Linked DNA regions of Homo sapiens: region 1 is linked to region 2. The links come from fine-mapping of genetic effects on gene expression. A gene starts in region 2. The other region holds a variant in brackets. All regions are shown on one strand. Distances are between the middles of the regions. Region 1 has its middle 23 kb from the start of SCART1. Region 2 holds the start of SCART1 (scavenger receptor family member expressed on T cells 1).

Evidence for each region. PIP is the estimated chance that this variant, and not a neighbour inherited with it, causes the effect.
Region 1: its variant is the best candidate, but not a certain one, in a credible set for the expression of SCART1 in esophagus muscle (GTEx, PIP 0.68).

Annotation. Positions count from the first base shown.
Region 1 is chr10:133,472,384-133,480,702 of GRCh38, reverse strand. No RefSeq gene overlaps it. Among named protein-coding and RNA genes, the nearest start is that of SCART1, 23 kb to the right of the region's middle. The variant C/T (reference allele first, on the strand shown) is at 4,648.
Region 2 is chr10:133,450,245-133,458,563 of GRCh38, reverse strand. It overlaps SCART1 (scavenger receptor family member expressed on T cells 1), which reads right to left and starts at 4,619. Exons shown (of 12, transcript NM_001396050.1): 1 at 4,500-4,619; 2 at 2,010-2,327; 3 at 989-1,285; 4 at 1-204. The coding sequence starts at 4,566. RefSeq lists an enhancer at 4,845-4,894.

The DNA.
Region 1 (8,319 bases), 22 kb before region 2:
CCCCTTGCTCGCTGTCCTGCTGAGACTCTCTGGGACCTGTCCCCTTGCTCGCTGTCCTGCTGAGACTCTCTGGGACCTGTCCCCTTGCTCGCTGTCCTGCTGACACTCTCTGGGACCTGTCCCCTTGCTCGCTGTCCTGCTGAGACGCTCTGGGACCTGTCCGCTTGCTCGCTGTCCTGCTGAGACTCTCTGGGACCTGTCCCCTTGCTCGCTGTCCTGCTGAGACTCTCTGGGACCTGTCCCCTTGCTCGCTGTCCTGCTGAGACTCTCTGGGACCTGTCCCCTTGCTCGCTGTCCTGCTGACACTCTCTGGGACCTGTCCCCTTGCTCGCTGTCCTGCTGAGACGCTCTGGGACCTGTCCGCTTGCTTGCTGTCCTGCTGAGACTCTCTGGGACCTGTCCGCTTGCTCGCTGTCCTGCTGAGACTCTCTGGGACCTGTCCGCTTGCTCGCTGTCCTGCTGACACTCTCTGGGACCTGTCCGCTTGCTCGCTGTCCTGCTGAGACTCTCTGGGACCTGTCCCCTTGCTCGCTGTCCTGCTGACACTCTCTGGGACCTGTCCGCTTGCTCGCTGTCCTGCTGACACTCTCTGGGACCTGTCCGCTTGCTCGCTGTCCTGCTGAGACTCTCTGGGACCTGTCCCCTTGCTCGCTGTCCTGCTGAGACTCTCTGGGACCTGTCCGCTTGCTCGCTGTCCTGCTGACACTCTCTGGGACCTGTCCCCTTGCTCGCTGTCTTGCTGAGACTCTGGGACCTGTCCGCTTGCTCGCTGTCCTGCTGAGACTCTCTGGGACCTGTCGGCTTGCTCGCTGTCCTGCTGAGACTCTCTGGGACCTGTCCCCTTGCTCGCTGTCCTGCTGAGACTCTCTGGGACCTGTCCCCTTGCTCGCTGTCCTGCTGAGACTCTCTGGGACCTGTCCGCTTGCTCGCTGTCCTGCTGAGACTCTCTGGGACCTGTCCCCTTGCTCGCTGTCTTGCTGAGACTCTGGGACCTGTCCGCTTGCTCGCTGTCCTGCTGACACTCTCTGGGACCTGTCCGCTTGCTCGCTGTCCTGCTGAGACTCTCTGGGACCTGTCCCCTTGCTCGCTGTCCTGCTGAGACTCTCTGGGACCTGTCCGCTTGCTCGCTGTCCTGCTGACACTCTCTGGGACCTGTCCCCTTGCTCGCTGTCTTGCTGAGACTCTGGGACCTGTCCGCTTGCTCGCTGTCCTGCTGAGACTCTCTGGGACCTGTCGGCTTGCTCGCTGTCCTGCTGAGACTCTCTGGGACCTGTCCGCTTGCTCGCTGTCCTGCTGAGACTCTCTGGGACCTGTCCGCTTGCTCGCTGTCCTGCTGAGACTCTCTGGGACCTGTCCCCTTGCTCGCTGTCTTGCTGAGACTCTGGGACCTGTCCGCTTGCTTGCTGTCCTGCTGAGACTCTCTGGGACCTGTCGGCTTGCTCGCTGTCCTGCTGAGACTCTCTGGGACCTGTCCGCTTGCTCGCTGTCCTGCTGAGACTCTCTGGGACCTGTCCCCTTGCTCGCTGTCCTGCTGAGACTCTCTGGGACCTGTCCCCTTGCTCGCTGTCCTGCTGAGACTCTCTGGGACCTGTCCCCTTGCTCGCTGTCCTGCTGAGACTCTCTGGGACCTGTCCGCTTGCTCGCTGTCCTGCTGAGACTCTCTGGGACCTGTCCGCTTGCTCGCTGTCCTGCTGAGACTCTCTGGGACCTGTCCGCTTGCTCGCTGTCCTGCTGAGACTCTCTGGGACCTGTCCGCTTGCTCGCTGTCCTGCTGAGACTCTCTGGGACCTGTCCGCTTGCTCGCTGTCCTGCTGAGACTCTCTGGGACCTGTCCGCTTGCTCGCTGTCCTGCTGAGACTCTCTGGGACCTGTCCCCTTGCTCGCTGTCCTGCTGAGACGCTCTGGGACCTGTCGGCTTGCTCGCTGTCCTGCTGAGACTCTCTGGGACCTGTCCCCTTGCTCGCTGTCCTGCTGAGACTCTCTGGGACCTGTCCCCTTGCTCGCTGTCCTGCTGAGACTCTCTGGGACCTGTCCCCTTGCTCGCTGTCCTGCTGACACTCTCTGGGACCTGTCCCCTTGCTCGCTGTCCTGCTGAGACGCTCTGGGACCTGTCCGCTTGCTCGCTGTCCTGCTGAGACTCTCTGGGACCTGTCCCCTTGCTCGCTGTCCTGCTGAGACTCTCTGGGACCTGTCCCCTTGCTCGCTGTCCTGCTGAGACTCTCTGGGACCTGTCCCCTTGCTCGCTGTCCTGCTGACACTCTCTGGGACCTGTCCCCTTGCTCGCTGTCCTGCTGAGACGCTCTGGGACCTGTCCGCTTGCTCGCTGTCCTGCTGAGACTCTCTGGGACCTGTCCGCTTGCTCGCTGTCCTGCTGAGACTCTCTGGGACCTGTCCGCTTGCTCGCTGTCCTGCTGACACTCTCTGGGACCTGTCCGCTTGCTCGCTGTCCTGCTGAGACTCTCTGGGACCTGTCCCCTTGCTCGCTGTCCTGCTGAGACTCTCTGGGACCTGTCCGCTTGCTCGCTGTCCTGCTGACACTCTCTGGGACCTGTCCGCTTGCTCGCTGTCCTGCTGAGACTCTCTGGGACCTGTCCCCTTGCTCGCTGTCTTGCTGAGACTCTGGGACCTGTCCGCTTGCTCGCTGTCCTGCTGAGACTCTCTGGGACCTGTCGGCTTGCTCGCTGTCCTGCTGAGACTCTCTGGGACCTGTCCGCTTGCTCGCTGTCCTGCTGAGACTCTCTGGGACCTGTCGGCTTGCTCGCTGTCCTGCTGAGACTCTCTGGGACCTGTCCCCTTGCTCGCTGTCCTGCTGAGACTCTCTGGGACCTGTCCCCTTGCTCGCTGTCCTGCTGAGACTCTCTGGGACCTGTCCGCTTGCTCGCTGTCCTGCTGAGACTCTCTGGGACCTGTCCCCTTGCTCGCTGTCTTGCTGAGACTCTGGGACCTGTCCGCTTGCTCGCTGTCCTGCTGACACTCTCTGGGACCTGTCCGCTTGCTCGCTGTCCTGCTGAGACTCTCTGGGACCTGTCCCCTTGCTCGCTGTCCTGCTGAGACTCTCTGGGACCTGTCCGCTTGCTCGCTGTCCTGCTGACACTCTCTGGGACCTGTCCGCTTGCTCGCTGTCCTGCTGAGACTCTCTGGGACCTGTCCCCTTGCTCGCTGTCTTGCTGAGACTCTGGGACCTGTCTGCTTGCTCGCTGTCCTGCTGAGACTCTCTGGGACCTGTCGGCTTGCTCGCTGTCCTGCTGAGACTCTCTGGAACCTGTCCGCTTGCTCGCTGTCCTGCTGAGACTCTCTGGGACCTGTCCCCTTGCTCGCTGTCCTGCTGAGACTCTCTGGGACCTGTCCGCTTGCTCGCTGTCCTGCTGAGACTCTCTGGGACCTGTCCCCTTGCTCGCTGTCTTGCTGAGACTCTGGGACCTGTCCGCTTGCTCGCTGTCCTGCTGAGACTCTCTGGGACCTGTCGGCTTGCTCGCTGTCCTGCTGAGACTCTCTGGGACCTGTCCGCTTGCTCGCTGTCCTGCTGAGATTCTCTGGGACCTGTCCGCTTGCTCGCTGTCCTGCTGAGACTCTCTGGGACCTGTCCGCTTGCTCGCTGTCCTGCTGAGACTCTCTGGGACCTGTCCGCTTGCTCGCTGTCCTGCTGAGACTCTCTGGGACCTGTCCCCTTGCTCGCTGTCCTGCTGAGTCGCTCTGCGACCTGTCCGCTTGCTCGCTGTCCTGCTGAGACTCTCTGGGACCTGTCCCCTTGTTCGCTGTCCTGCTGAGACTCTCTGGGAAAGTTTGCTGTTGGCAACTTTGCTGCAGAAAGCACATAATTAAGATGTTAACATGGGTCCCTGCGCCCAGGGAGAATCAGAGCATTAACCCTCCACTCTGCGAGGGAGTCAACAAGCCCAGCGTCACTCACCCCCGAGGACAGTGCTCCCTGCCGGCCTGCAGCGGGGCTGGCATCACAGTAAATAACAAAAATGCAGCAAGAGCCTCTCATTGCTTTGATTTTAAACATTTCCTCCATTATTCCAGCACACAGAAGCTCGTGGTGTGCAAGTGTGTTTGGCCCCCGAGGCAGGTGGAGACCACATCAGTGACCTGGGCACAAGATTCTGGGTCGCGGAGAAGGAAAACCACCCAGCAGGCATGGGCTTTATGGAGAGTTAGCGTCAGGACAGCACAGGTTTCACCTGCAGAGGCTGTGAGGGGCACTCTCCAAAGGGAGGCATGTGGGGACATCAGGGCAGTGAGTGGCTCCAACTACCACCAGGCCAGACTCCAGCTCTTTTGGCCAGGTGACCTCAGCTGTCAGATTTCAGCTGTAGGTTGACCTGGCCACAGCTCCTTAGTAGAAACCATGACTGCGGCCCTACCTCAGCCACCCCAGGCCGCTCCCTCAGGAGGGCAGACTCCATGCAGAAGCGGGCATGGACTGGCCATTCCTGTTCCTGGTCTGGGTGGGAGGTTTGTTCCATCAGGGGGTGTCAGGCTGTGTCCGAGACTGGATACATCAAAGAAAGGCACAGACCCAGCCTCGGTGCAGCCCCTAATCCAGTGCCTCCACTCAACCAACCTCACATACCTCTCCCACCACCCATCTCTGACCACCTAGCCTCCTCGGGCAGGACAGGCCCAGCCCAGGGCAAGGAGAGG[C/T]GGCTTAGTCAACATCAGAGGAAACAAGGCCAAACCCACTTCCTTCCCAGCCCAGGAGGCACCCAGCCCAGGTAGTCTTCAACCCAGGCAGCCTTCAGCTGCAGTCCTCAGCCCAGGCAGTCCTCAGCCCAGGCAGTCCTCAGCCCAGGCAGTCCCCCCAGCCCAGGCAGTCCCTCAGCCCAGGCAGTCCTCAGCCCAGGCAGTCCCCCCAGCCCAGGCAGCCCTCAGCCCAGGCAGTCCCCCCAGCCCAGGCAGTCCTCAGCCCAGGCAGCCCTCAGCCCAGGCAGTCCCCCCAGCCCAGGCAGTCCCTCAGCCCAGGCAGTCCTCAGCCCAGGCAGCCCTCAGCTCAGGCAGTCCCAAAGACCTCCTGGCTGCCCAGTCTGAGGCCCGAAATCCATCCTCCATCACAGGAGCCCCATTTGCCTGTGAAACCAAGGGCAGGTGGAGCCTTGCACCAGATTCACAGGAAGCTTCCAGGCCCCTCTTACAGATCCTGATCTGCCTTAAAGGCCAAACCACGGGGCTCCGGCTTCTTGCTCACCTGATCGAGGGCACAGATAGGGCACAGTGCAGGCCCACAGAGGTTCCCAGGCACTTAGAGTTTCAAACGGAAACCCTCAACACAACAGCAAAGCAATTTCAGCAACATTTTTTCCACATTAATGTAGGTCAGGGCAGGGTAGAATCAGATCTGACTTTTCAAAAACATTGAAAGGAAAATTAGGTGGGTCATCCATGTGGAAGGCAGGCATGGAGGGTTGCAGCCACTCACTGAGTGAGGAGTGTGGCTAGGCCAGCTCCTGTCTAAATGGGAGCCCACATGTCCATGGACATGATGGTGCCTCAAGGCTGACGCCCGTCTCTTCCCAGTCAGTGTCTCCTGTGTTTGATGCTGACCTTTGAGTGAAGTCTGTCCCCTCGGGGTGGATGCTGAGGTTGCTACAGAGGCCCACGTGTCCCCAGGAGCGGCTCTCAGGGAGCAATTACCCCACTCGGAGGTAGAAAGGGGTCCCCATGGGAACCGCCCCCAGGCTCGAGCAGAGACAGGCCAGGGCACCTGCAGGGCTTCTGGGTGATGGACCTGGGGAGATCAATTCCAGAGCTGGTGGCTTCTCCCCAGCACCTCTGCCCTGGGCACACAAGGGCCATGTGCAACCCTCCCTGCAGGAGGATGGAATTTTATTTAAATAGACTTAATCTTTTAGAATAGTTTTAAATTTGCCCCCACCCAGTTTCCCGTTACTGACATCTCCCATTAGCATGTGTTACATTAATGTGCCAGTATCGATCCTATACTGTCAACTGCAATCCATGGCTGATTCCCAGTTCCTCCGTGTTCCCCTAACGTCCTTCTGTCCACATCACAGTTAGGAGTTTCCTTAGGCTTCTCTTGACTGCAGCATTTTCTCAGACTTTCCTTGCTTTTGATGAACTTGGTAGTTTTGGAGAATATTGGCCAGGTATTTTGTATCTTCCAGGTATTCCCTTGACTGGGATTCGCCTGATTATTTTTTTACTCATGATGAAAGTTACGGGTTTTGGGGCGGAAAGACACAGAGGCACGTGACATTCTCATCACACCACACCGGGATGCACACTGTCAGCATGTCTGGCTGTTGATGTGAACTCGGGAAGGTAAATATTTTCATCACAATTCTTATGTGCCCATCCAGACGCTGAGGTGGCCTGCAGTGTCCAGGGAGACACTGTCCTGACTTCAAGGATGGAGCATCCAAAGGGTCTGAGGAGACTAAGAGTCTTCTGGCAGGCTGAAGCCCAGACCCCCACTCTGCACTCAGCAGGCCTGGCCACGTAGATGAGGCATTGTGAGCCCATGGGGGTTGACTCACTTCCTTGTTTGGGCCAAAGGCCCACAACTGATTGGTAAAGCAGTGTAGGTGGTCACAGCAAGTGCCCACAGGTAGAACTGAGATGATAATTGTGCTCAGGAGAAACCTAGCAATTTATCTTAGAGACCAAGTGCAGAAAATAAGACATGGAGAAAACAGTCATTGCAAAAGAACCAGAGACGTGGCCATGGCTGATTTAAAGTGCTTCTTAATTTCATCACAGGAAGACAACTGGCCCCTTTAATTTTCCAAACCTTCTAACATCCTTCAACTCAATCAATCGGCACATGTTTTTAATCTCTGGCCAATGATTATCTATTTTCCATGACAGTATATGTAATAGCATTTCAGCAACCCAAGATTTGAACACTTCCTCTAATTTATTCAAATGTGTTATAACCTTCAGCTATGCCGGATTTTCCTAATCAAACACACCACTTTTCTTTAAAAATAATGTTGATTTATAAAAACATTCAGTATCAAAGGTCACTGCAACACTGATTTAAGGTTATTTCATGGCCCACAATAAGTAACCATATTTGTAGCATTTAAACCTCAAAATCCAAGCTAAGTGGTAAGATGTGGGAGCACCTGCTACATACCTGGAATTGTCCTAGGGCTACGGGGATCCTCAAAGCCCAATGAGAGTCCCTCATCTTCCAACGTTTTGGGATCCTCAGGCAGCAGGGCCATCCCCAGCAAGACTCAGCAGGTCTGAGCCACCTGACCACCGTCAACCAGGCACTCCCTGGGGGACCCTGTGCTCAGCCTATGGGAAACAAGCTAAGCAAAGGAGCTTCTTCAACTCTGGGGTCGGTGAGACACCCACCAACAATTAGACACAGGATGTTCCCTTGGGAGGGGTCTCTGTATTCATCTGTTCTCACACTGCTATAAAAAAATACCTGAGACTCTGTAATTTTTAAGAAAAAAAGGTTTAATTGGCTCATGGTTCTGCAGGCTGTACAGGAAGGAGAGTGGTATCTGCTTCTGGGGAGGCCTCAGGAAGTTTCCAGTCATGGTGGAAGGTGAAGGGGGAGCAGGTGCCTCACATGGCAAAAGAGGAACAAGAAAGAGGGGGAGACACCACACTCAATGACCAAATCTCAGGAGGGAGATGCCACACTCAACTGAACACATCTCAGGACGGAGACGCCACACTCAACAACTTACATCCCAGGAGGGAGACGCCACACTTTCCACTGACCAGATCTCAGGAGGGAGACACCATACTCAATGACCAGATCTCAGGAGGGAGACGCCACACTCAACGACCAGATCTCAGGAGGGAGACGCCACACTCAACGACCAGATCTCAGGAGGGAGACGCCACACTTTCCACTGACCAGATCTCAGGAGGGAGACGCCACACTTTCAACTGACCAGATCTCAGGAGGGAGACGCCACACTTTCCACTGACCAGATCTCAGGAGGGAGACGCCACACTTTCAACTGACCAGATCTCAGAAGGGAGACGCCACACTCAACGACCAGATCTCAGGAGGGAGACGCCACACTCAACTGACCAGACCTCAGGAGGGAGACGCCACACTCAACTGACCAGATCTCAGGAGGGAGACGCCACACTCAACTGACCAGATCTCAGGAGGGAGACGCCACACTCAACTGACCAGACCTCAGGAGGGAGACGCCACACTCAACTGACCAGACCTCAGGAGGGAGACGCCACACTCAACTGACCAGATCTCAGGAGGGAGACGCCACACTCAATGACCAGATCTCAGGACGGAGACGCCACACTTTCAACTGACCAGATCTCAGGAGGGAGATGCCACACTCAACTGACCAGACCTCAGGAGGG
Region 2 (8,319 bases):
GGAAGGCCTCCGTCCACACCGGCCCCGAGCCCCGGCCGAAGCGGGCGCCCTCGGGCGTGGACACGACCGCCCCACACTGCAGCTCCCGGCACACCACGTGGGCCGTGGCCAGGTCCAGGGCCGCATCACAGACGGTGCCCCAGGTCACCTCCAGGCGCCCGGCGCAGGGGTGCTCGCCGCCCACCAGTCGGGCCTCGGTGTGTCCTGGGGGCAGACGTCCTCTCAGGCAGGAGACAGGTGTTCTCAGGTCAACAGCCTGGCCCTGAGCCTCAGACTGCGGAAGGCTTCAGCCAGGAGCCATCACCTGCATCTAGGCAGAGGGTCTACCAAGCACAGGCAGGAACTTGCAGCCACAGGCCCTTCCACCCGGCACCCAGAGCAGAGCAGACGTCCTTGGCCGCATCACCAAGGTCAGGGTCAGGGTCACCTGCTGCAGGTGCTCACGTATTTCACAGCCTCTGCCTGTCCGAGGCCATGACAGCAACACCCTCTGCAATCCCAGAGGCGAGGTCAGGGCACCCCTTGGTCCACTGAGCACCACCCTCTCTGGGGTACCGCAGCAGGCAGACTATCCACCTCATTTCAGCTGCTCCTCATATGCACAACAAGGCCAGGAGCTGTGAGGCCAGTGCAGCTCACACACAGTTGAGGCAGGGCTGGGAAGAAGTGACCTCTACCCAACCCCGATCCATGTTAGACATGCAGAGATCACAGCTGAGGCAGCTCAGACTTGCAGCGGCAGCCAGGACCCCTAGATGGCCTGCGGGTTCTGAGCCAGGACACCTCTGTGGGGCCACCAGAAACTCAGCTCCACTCTGCTGAGAACCAGCGTGAGAGCTGAGGCCCTTTCCCACCTCTGCGCCCAATGTCTCATGCAGGACAGGGGGGCCCATCCGTGGGAACGCCCACCCCCCTTCTCCCTGCCCTCCCCAGGTCCGGGCCCAGCATCATCCCAAGGGTCACTGGGAACATCAGGTGGCAGCCTCACCTGAGCAGACCACCTCTGCGTCCAGCCGCAGGTCGCAGCCGCTGCGGAAGTTGTTGTCCAGTCTGCAGCTGCGGATGGTGGGCTCGGTACCCCTGCAGGCCAGGTACTTCCTGACGACGCCCACGTCCCGGCGGGGGGCCTGGAGCACAGGGCCGCACCCCAGCTCCCGGCAGAACACCATGGCCTCCTCCACATGCAGGACACAGAGGCGGTCCACCCCATTCACGTTTCTGATCTCGGGGAGTCCCGCGCAGGGACTGCGGCCCTTCACCAGCCGGAGCTCCCGGAAAGTGCCGTCTGTGGAGCACAGGCCGGTCCTCCTTAAGGTATGGACCCAGCTGGCCGCATGGTCACTCGGCAGCTCCTTTTTCAGGGAGGACAGTGATGGGCTGAGCCAGGGCCAGCTTCAGGGGCAGGTGACCGGGCAGTCACACAGGGCCCTGGGCTCAGAGAGACCCCTGTGCCCAGCTTCATGCTCTGCTGCTGGTCTCCTGAAACAAGGTTCCCCGCAGGATCCGTTCACACTGGGCCCCAAAATGGTAGGAGGTCCTGGCCAGGTGGTTCAGCCTCAGAGGCAGGACGCTATGAGGGGGTCCTCACAGCCACATAAAATGTGAGGGACAGCTGAGGACCCTCGAGCCAGACCTCAAAGGGAAAGCGTGTACCTGTCTGTCATTTGTCTAAGAAACCATCATCAGCTACCTGTGTGGGCCTCAGGCGTCCACAGACCCCGCCCCCGCTCGGCTGCTGCCTCCCCCACGCCTGGGCCGCACTCTGCTTCCTTCCTCCAATCTCTGACTCTCCCTGGCGTTGGTTTTTCCACAGCTGAATCTTACAGTCAGGATGGCCCCGGTGCCCAGAGAGGAGCCCCTCCCAGAGAGAGCTCCAGACCCACAGCCTCCCCGCCCGTCTCCGAGACCCGCCATCCTCCCAGTCCTCCTCTGCGTCCTCCCAGTCCTCCTCCTCGTCCTCCCACTCCTCCTCCTCCTCAGCCCCGTCCCCTTCACTCCTCCCTACTTACTGGAGCACAGCGCGACCACCACCCATGCGTGGGGGCACGGGCTCTGGCACCATGAGCCAAGGCTGCACTCCCAGAGGGAGGACTCGTTGCCCCGGCAGGACACGTTGTGAAGCCAGGGCTGGGCCATCTCTCCAGGCAGCGGGACATACTTGGGGGCGCCCACGGCAGGGCCGCAGCCCAGCTGCCTGCACACGACAGAGGCCTCTGCCAGCGTCCACTCCTGGTTGCACACGTATCCCCATGCCCCGTGGTGTCGGACCAACACCACTCCGTCGCACGTGCTGTGTCTGTACGCCAGCCTCAGAGCACCTGGTCCACCTACAGACAGACAGGTCCAGTTAGAGGGGCCAGAACCAACCAGAGGCGCAGGAGGAGATGGCAGCCGCGGCAGCAGGGAACGGCCTGTGAGGCCTCAGCAGCGAGTCGGGCTCCTCTCACCCCACCAAGCAGTCCCAGAGAGGTGATGGGCGCGGCTCACAGAGAAACCCTCACCCCATGTGTCTCCCCGGGGGCTACTCCCCTCCCTGGCCCTCTGGAGCCCCAACATCCTGGAGGACCCCATCCCCCAGGCAAGGAAGTCCCCTGTCCTCCTGGGTCTGCAGCTGGGTGGGTCCTCCCACCCACTCTCTGCCTCCCAAGCATCATTCCCCTACTTCCACTGGAGGCCCTGTGGTCTCCAGCCCACCACTGTCACACCTGCCCCACCCACGTGACTGTCCACACCCCTTGGAGTGCCCCGCTCACCCTTCGGTCCTGTCCTCTGCAACCCTGAGTATCCAGGAAAACCACCCCTGCCTGCCCTCCCACTATGCCAAACCCAGCCCCACTACCCCACCCATACCGGCTTCCAGGCAGGATCTCACCCTCCGGTCTCTGAGCATCTCAGCTACTCCAGCACCTTCTCTCCCACCCGCCACGGAGGCACCCCTAACCACCCTCTCCAGGCCTCTGCAACCCCACATCAACACAGCCACCCCGAGGAAAATGAAGCAACCAGTAGGAGGAAGTCCATGTGGGTGGTGCTGTGTGGTCCCAGAGCAGCCTCCAGGGCCCCTGGAGGACTCTCCACACCCAGAAAAGAGCCTCCCCGATGGCAGTCAGGAGCAGAGGGGGGACCCTGCCTGGTCCAAGATGAAGACCTTTCCCTCCCACCTCCTGGGGAGCCTTGAATCTCCTCTCTCTCAGTCTTCATCCATCCCTCCACACCCCCCAGCCTCCTCATCACCCTCCCCACCTGGTTCTTCTCAGGACATGGATGCGTGCTGGTGTCTGCAATTTTTTCTTTTTTAGACAAAAGTCTCGCTCTGTCACTCAGGCTGGAGTGCAATGGCACGATCTCAGCTCACTGCAATGTCCACCTCCAGGGTTGAACTGATTCTCGTGCCTCAGCCTCCCATGTAGCGGGAATTATAGGCGCCCACTACCACGACTGGCTAATTTTTGTATTTTTAGTAGAGATGGGGTTTCACCATGTTGGCCAGGCTGATCTCGAACTCATGACCTCAGGTAAACTGCCTGCCTCAGCCTCCCAAAGTGCTGGGATTACAGCCATAAGCCACCACGCCCGCTATGAATAGCTTTTCATTTTATATTTTCTAAAGCTATTTCTTGTTGTAATAGAGAATTCCGGCCCTTGTGCATGCGATCGTTGACACAAAAGCAAATCCCTTCAACCCCAGGCTTCCATCCATCTGTGGCCACATTGCTGCCTTTCCTTCAAATCCTAACCTCCTCTGCACTTTCTGCAGCTGCCCACAGACTTCCACCCCACCGCTGGGGATGTGGCTCCGTCCAGCACCAGGTCACCGCCCTGCTGGGCACCTGGACCAGCCTTGACAGTGAAGTGTTCCTCAGCCTCAAGGGCACCCTCCCCTGCCTCCCGCCCAGCCCCACACTCACATCATGGCTCCATGCCCACGTACGCAGGTCCCCGGGGCTCCCTCTCACCTCCAGCCTCTCCTGCTGTTCCTTCTAGCTAGACCCCCCTCTCTACACCTCCCTGCCCCTGACCCAGCAGCCCTTCCACATGGCTTCACACCCCAGTGTCTCCACCTGGGTGCAGCATCTCCATGGGACCCCATGCTCAACCTCACTGCCAGATGCAGCCAACCCTCCCACCTCCTTCCCAGGACCTCAGCCCTGCTCCAGGGCACGTGGATGGAGCAGCCCCCGCAGGACCCCTCAGGACTCTGTTGATCAGGGTCATTGGGACCAGACACTGGGCCGTGTCCCTCATTTTGTCCAGGGCCTGACCCAGCCCTGAACCCTGGGTTCCAAGCAGTGGGGCTAGGGTCTGGGGGCCCTGAGGTCACAGGGATCCAGCCATGTGGAGTCACCTCCCTCCTGCCCCAGCATGTCCCACCCACTCTGGGCTGAGTGAGACCCAGGCAGACGGCAGGTCACTGCAGGGACCCTCATGCCCCGGGGCCTGGGCATCAACAGAGCTGATGCCTCCAGAAAGTTCCATGGATGAAGGAAGCAGAAACTTACCAATGGGGACTGCCCAGAGATTCAGAAGAAGGGGCCCGAGTCCCAGGGTCCAGAGAGCTGCCCTCATGGTCCCACAGCCCTCTGGGCTTCAGCAAGCTCTCGCTGCTTAGCTGGGGCAATGGCAGAGGTCACAGCCCAGAGTCACATATACAGAAGTGGGAGCTGCCAAGGACCTCCAGGGTCCAATGGGGACAGCCACAGCCTTTCCAGAGCGAATCAGCAGCTCTGCCTCTCAGCCGTGAGCAGAGCAGCCAATGCCTTGCTGGCCTGAGCATCACCAGACATGGGGAGGGTGCAGGCTGTGGGTTTCCTCCCACACTGATCAAGCTGCTGATGGGACTAGACCCAACCATCAGGCAGAGATGGTCCAACCTGCCCACAGCACAGCATCAGTGAAGCCCTGCGTCTCTGCCCTCCACCCGGGCCCGTCGGCTTCAGCCATGCCACCACCACAGAAGGCAGTGGCCCCAGACAGCCAAGGAGGCGTCCTCTGTGCCAGCAGATGGCACTAGCAGAGTTAGGGGTAGGGGTAGGATTAGGGTTTGAGTGGGAGTCCCAGCAGCACCAGAAGAATGACACGGAAGAGCTTTGCAAGAACTCTGAGAACTGAACTGTCGTTGGAATGAAAACCCTTGAGAGAAGATACAGTTAAGAATCACTCATCATATGAAGACCCAGGGACACGACCATTTCAGTAAGAGACAACCAACTAAGGGCGGCACCAGGAAGAGTCAGGTGTCAGAATTATCTGACAAGGATTTTAAAACAGGCATCATAAAAATGTTTCCACAACAAATTGCAAATGCTCTTGAAATAAGTGGAAAAATTGAAATCTCAGCAAAGAAATAGAAGTTATAAAAATGGAACAGGCTAGGCGCAGTGGCTCACGCCTGTAATCCTAGCACTTTGGGAGGCTGAGGTGGGCAGATACCTGAGGTCAGGAGTTCGAGACCACCCTGGCCAACATGGTGAAACCCTGTCTCTACTAAAAATACAAAAATTAGCCGGGCAGGGTGACATGCACCTGTAGTCCCAGCTACTCGGGAGGCTGAGGCATGAGAATGGCGTGAGCCCAAGAGGCGGAGGTTGCAGTGAGCTGAGATTGCACCACTGCACTCCAGCCTGGGTGACAGAGCAAGACTTTGTCTTAAAAACAAAATGAAACAGTGGTAAGGATGTAGAGAAATGGGACCTCTCAGATTTTGCTGGTAGATTCAAAAATGGTGCAACTGCTTTGAGAAAGTTTGGCAGTTTGTCAAAATGTTAAACAGAGATACTCCTGGAAGATACCACTTGAGCCCAGAAGGGGCAACTCCACTCTTGGGTACATATCTAAGAGGAATGTAAACTTATGTCCACACAAAAATCTCTACATGAATGTCCATGCAGCATTATTCATAATAAAGATGAAAACAGCTCACGTGTGCATCCACTGATAAATGGAGAAACAAAATGCGGTATGTCCACATTATGGAATGTCACTCAGCCATAGAAAGGGAACAAGGCACCCACACAGGCTGGATGTGCGTCAACCTTGAAAACATGCTCAGTGAGAGAAGCCAGATGTAAAAGACCACATACTGGGTACGATTCCATTCATATGAGATTTCCAGAATAGGCAAATCAATAGACAAGGAAATTAGATTCATGGTTTCCAGGGGCTAGAGAAGGAGGAAAGAGAAAATGACTGAAAATAGTATAGTGTTTTTCTTTTTTATTTTTATTTATTTATGTATTTATATATTCATTTATTTATTGGGAGACAGAGTCTCACTTTCTCATCCAGGCTGGAGTGCAGTGGCATGATCATAGCTCACTGCAGCCTCAACTTCCTGGCCTCAAGTGATCTTCCTACCTTAACCTCCTGAGTAACTGGGACTATAGGTGCATGCCACCATGTCTGGCTAATTTTTTAAATTTTTTTGTAGAGATGGAAAGCCTTGCCATGTACCCAGGCTGGTCTCAAACGCCTGGCCTCATCGGACCCTCCCACCTTGGCCTCCCAAAGTGCTGAGATTACAGGTGTGAGCCACCACAGCCAGCTACAGGATTTCTTTTTCAGGTGATGAAAATGTTCTGAAATTAGTGGTGCTGGTTGCATAATCCTGAATATACTAAAATCCTCTGCACCACACACTTTAAAAGAGTGCATTTATGATACATGAACCTCAATTAAATTGTTTTTAAAATAAATGATTACAGAACTGAAAATATAATAACTGAAATGTTAAAAACTCAATGAACGGACTAGTAGAATGGAAATGACAGAGGAACCAGTGAACCTGATGATACTTCAATAGAATTTACACAGTGCAAACAACAGAGAGAAAATAGAAAAATTTATAGAGCCTCGGGGATCTGTGGGACAATAATAACAAGACTTAATCTTTGTATCTGGGAAATTCAGGAAAGATAAGAGAGCGTATGGGGCTGAAAATGTATTTAAAGTAACAACTACTAAATATTCTCCAAATATGGTGAAAGGCACAAAACTACAGATTCAAGAAGCTGAGAAATCCAAAATAAGATGAATTCAAAGACATTCACACCAAGACACATCATAATTAAACGTTTGGAAACCAAAGGAAAAAAAAATCCTAAAAACAGCCAGACAAAAAGGATTGCACTGACTATAAAAAATGGTAAAATGTGAATTACAGCTAATTTCTCGTCTGAAATGGAAGCAAGCAGGAAGTGCCTTATTTTTAATTGACATGTAAGAATTGTACATATTTATGGGATACAGAGTGATACTTTGATACATGTGTGCAATGCATAATGATCGAATCAGGGTAACTACCAAACCCATCAAACATTTATCATTTATCTGTTGGGAACATTCAAAACCCTCTCTTCTAGCTATTTGAAAATACACAACAAGTTATTTTGAATTATAGTCACCCTACAGAGCTACAGAACACTGGAACTTATTCCTCTGTAACTTTGTATTTATTAAACAACCTCTCCCTATCTGCTTCTCCCCTAACCCTTACCAGTCTCTAGTAACTCTAATTCTACTCTACTAATATGAGGTCAATTTCTTAGTCCCGACATGTGAGTGACAACTAGCAGTATTGCAGTATTGATATTTTTGTACCTGATTTATTGCACTTAATAGAATGTCCTACATGCACACACTGCCACAAATGGCAAGTTTTTTTTTTTTTTTTTGAGATGGAGTTTCACTCGTGTTGCCCAGGCTGGAGTGCAATGGTGCAGTCTCGGCTCACTGCAACTTCCGCCTCCCAGGTTCAAGCGATTCTTCTGCCTCAGCCTCCCAAGTAGCTGAGATTACAGGCACATGGCACCACGACCAGCTAATTTTTGTATTTTTAGTAGAGACAGGGTTTCGCCATGTTGGCCAGGCTGGTCTTGAAATCCTGACCTCAGGTGATCCACCTGCCTTGGCCTCCCAAAGTGCTGAGATTACAGGTTTCTTTAATCTACTTATTTTTTTTCTTGAGACACCCCCAGGGTCTCATTCTGTGGCCCAGGTTGGAGTGCAGTGGCATGATCTTGGCTCACTGCAACCTCTGCCTCCTGGACTCAAGTAATCCCCCTACCTCAGCCTCCCTTGTAGCTGGGACCACAGGTGCATGCCACCACACCCAGATAATTTGTTTTTTTTTTTTTTTTTTTTTGTAGAGATGGGGTTTCACCATGTTGCCCAGGCTGGTCTCAAACTCCAGGACTCAAGCAATCCACCAGTCTTGGCCTCCCAAAGTGCTGGGATTACAGGTGTTAGTCACCATGCCCAGCCTATTTCACTCTTTTTTATGGCTTAATAGTATTCCATTGTGTATATATATTACATTTCCTT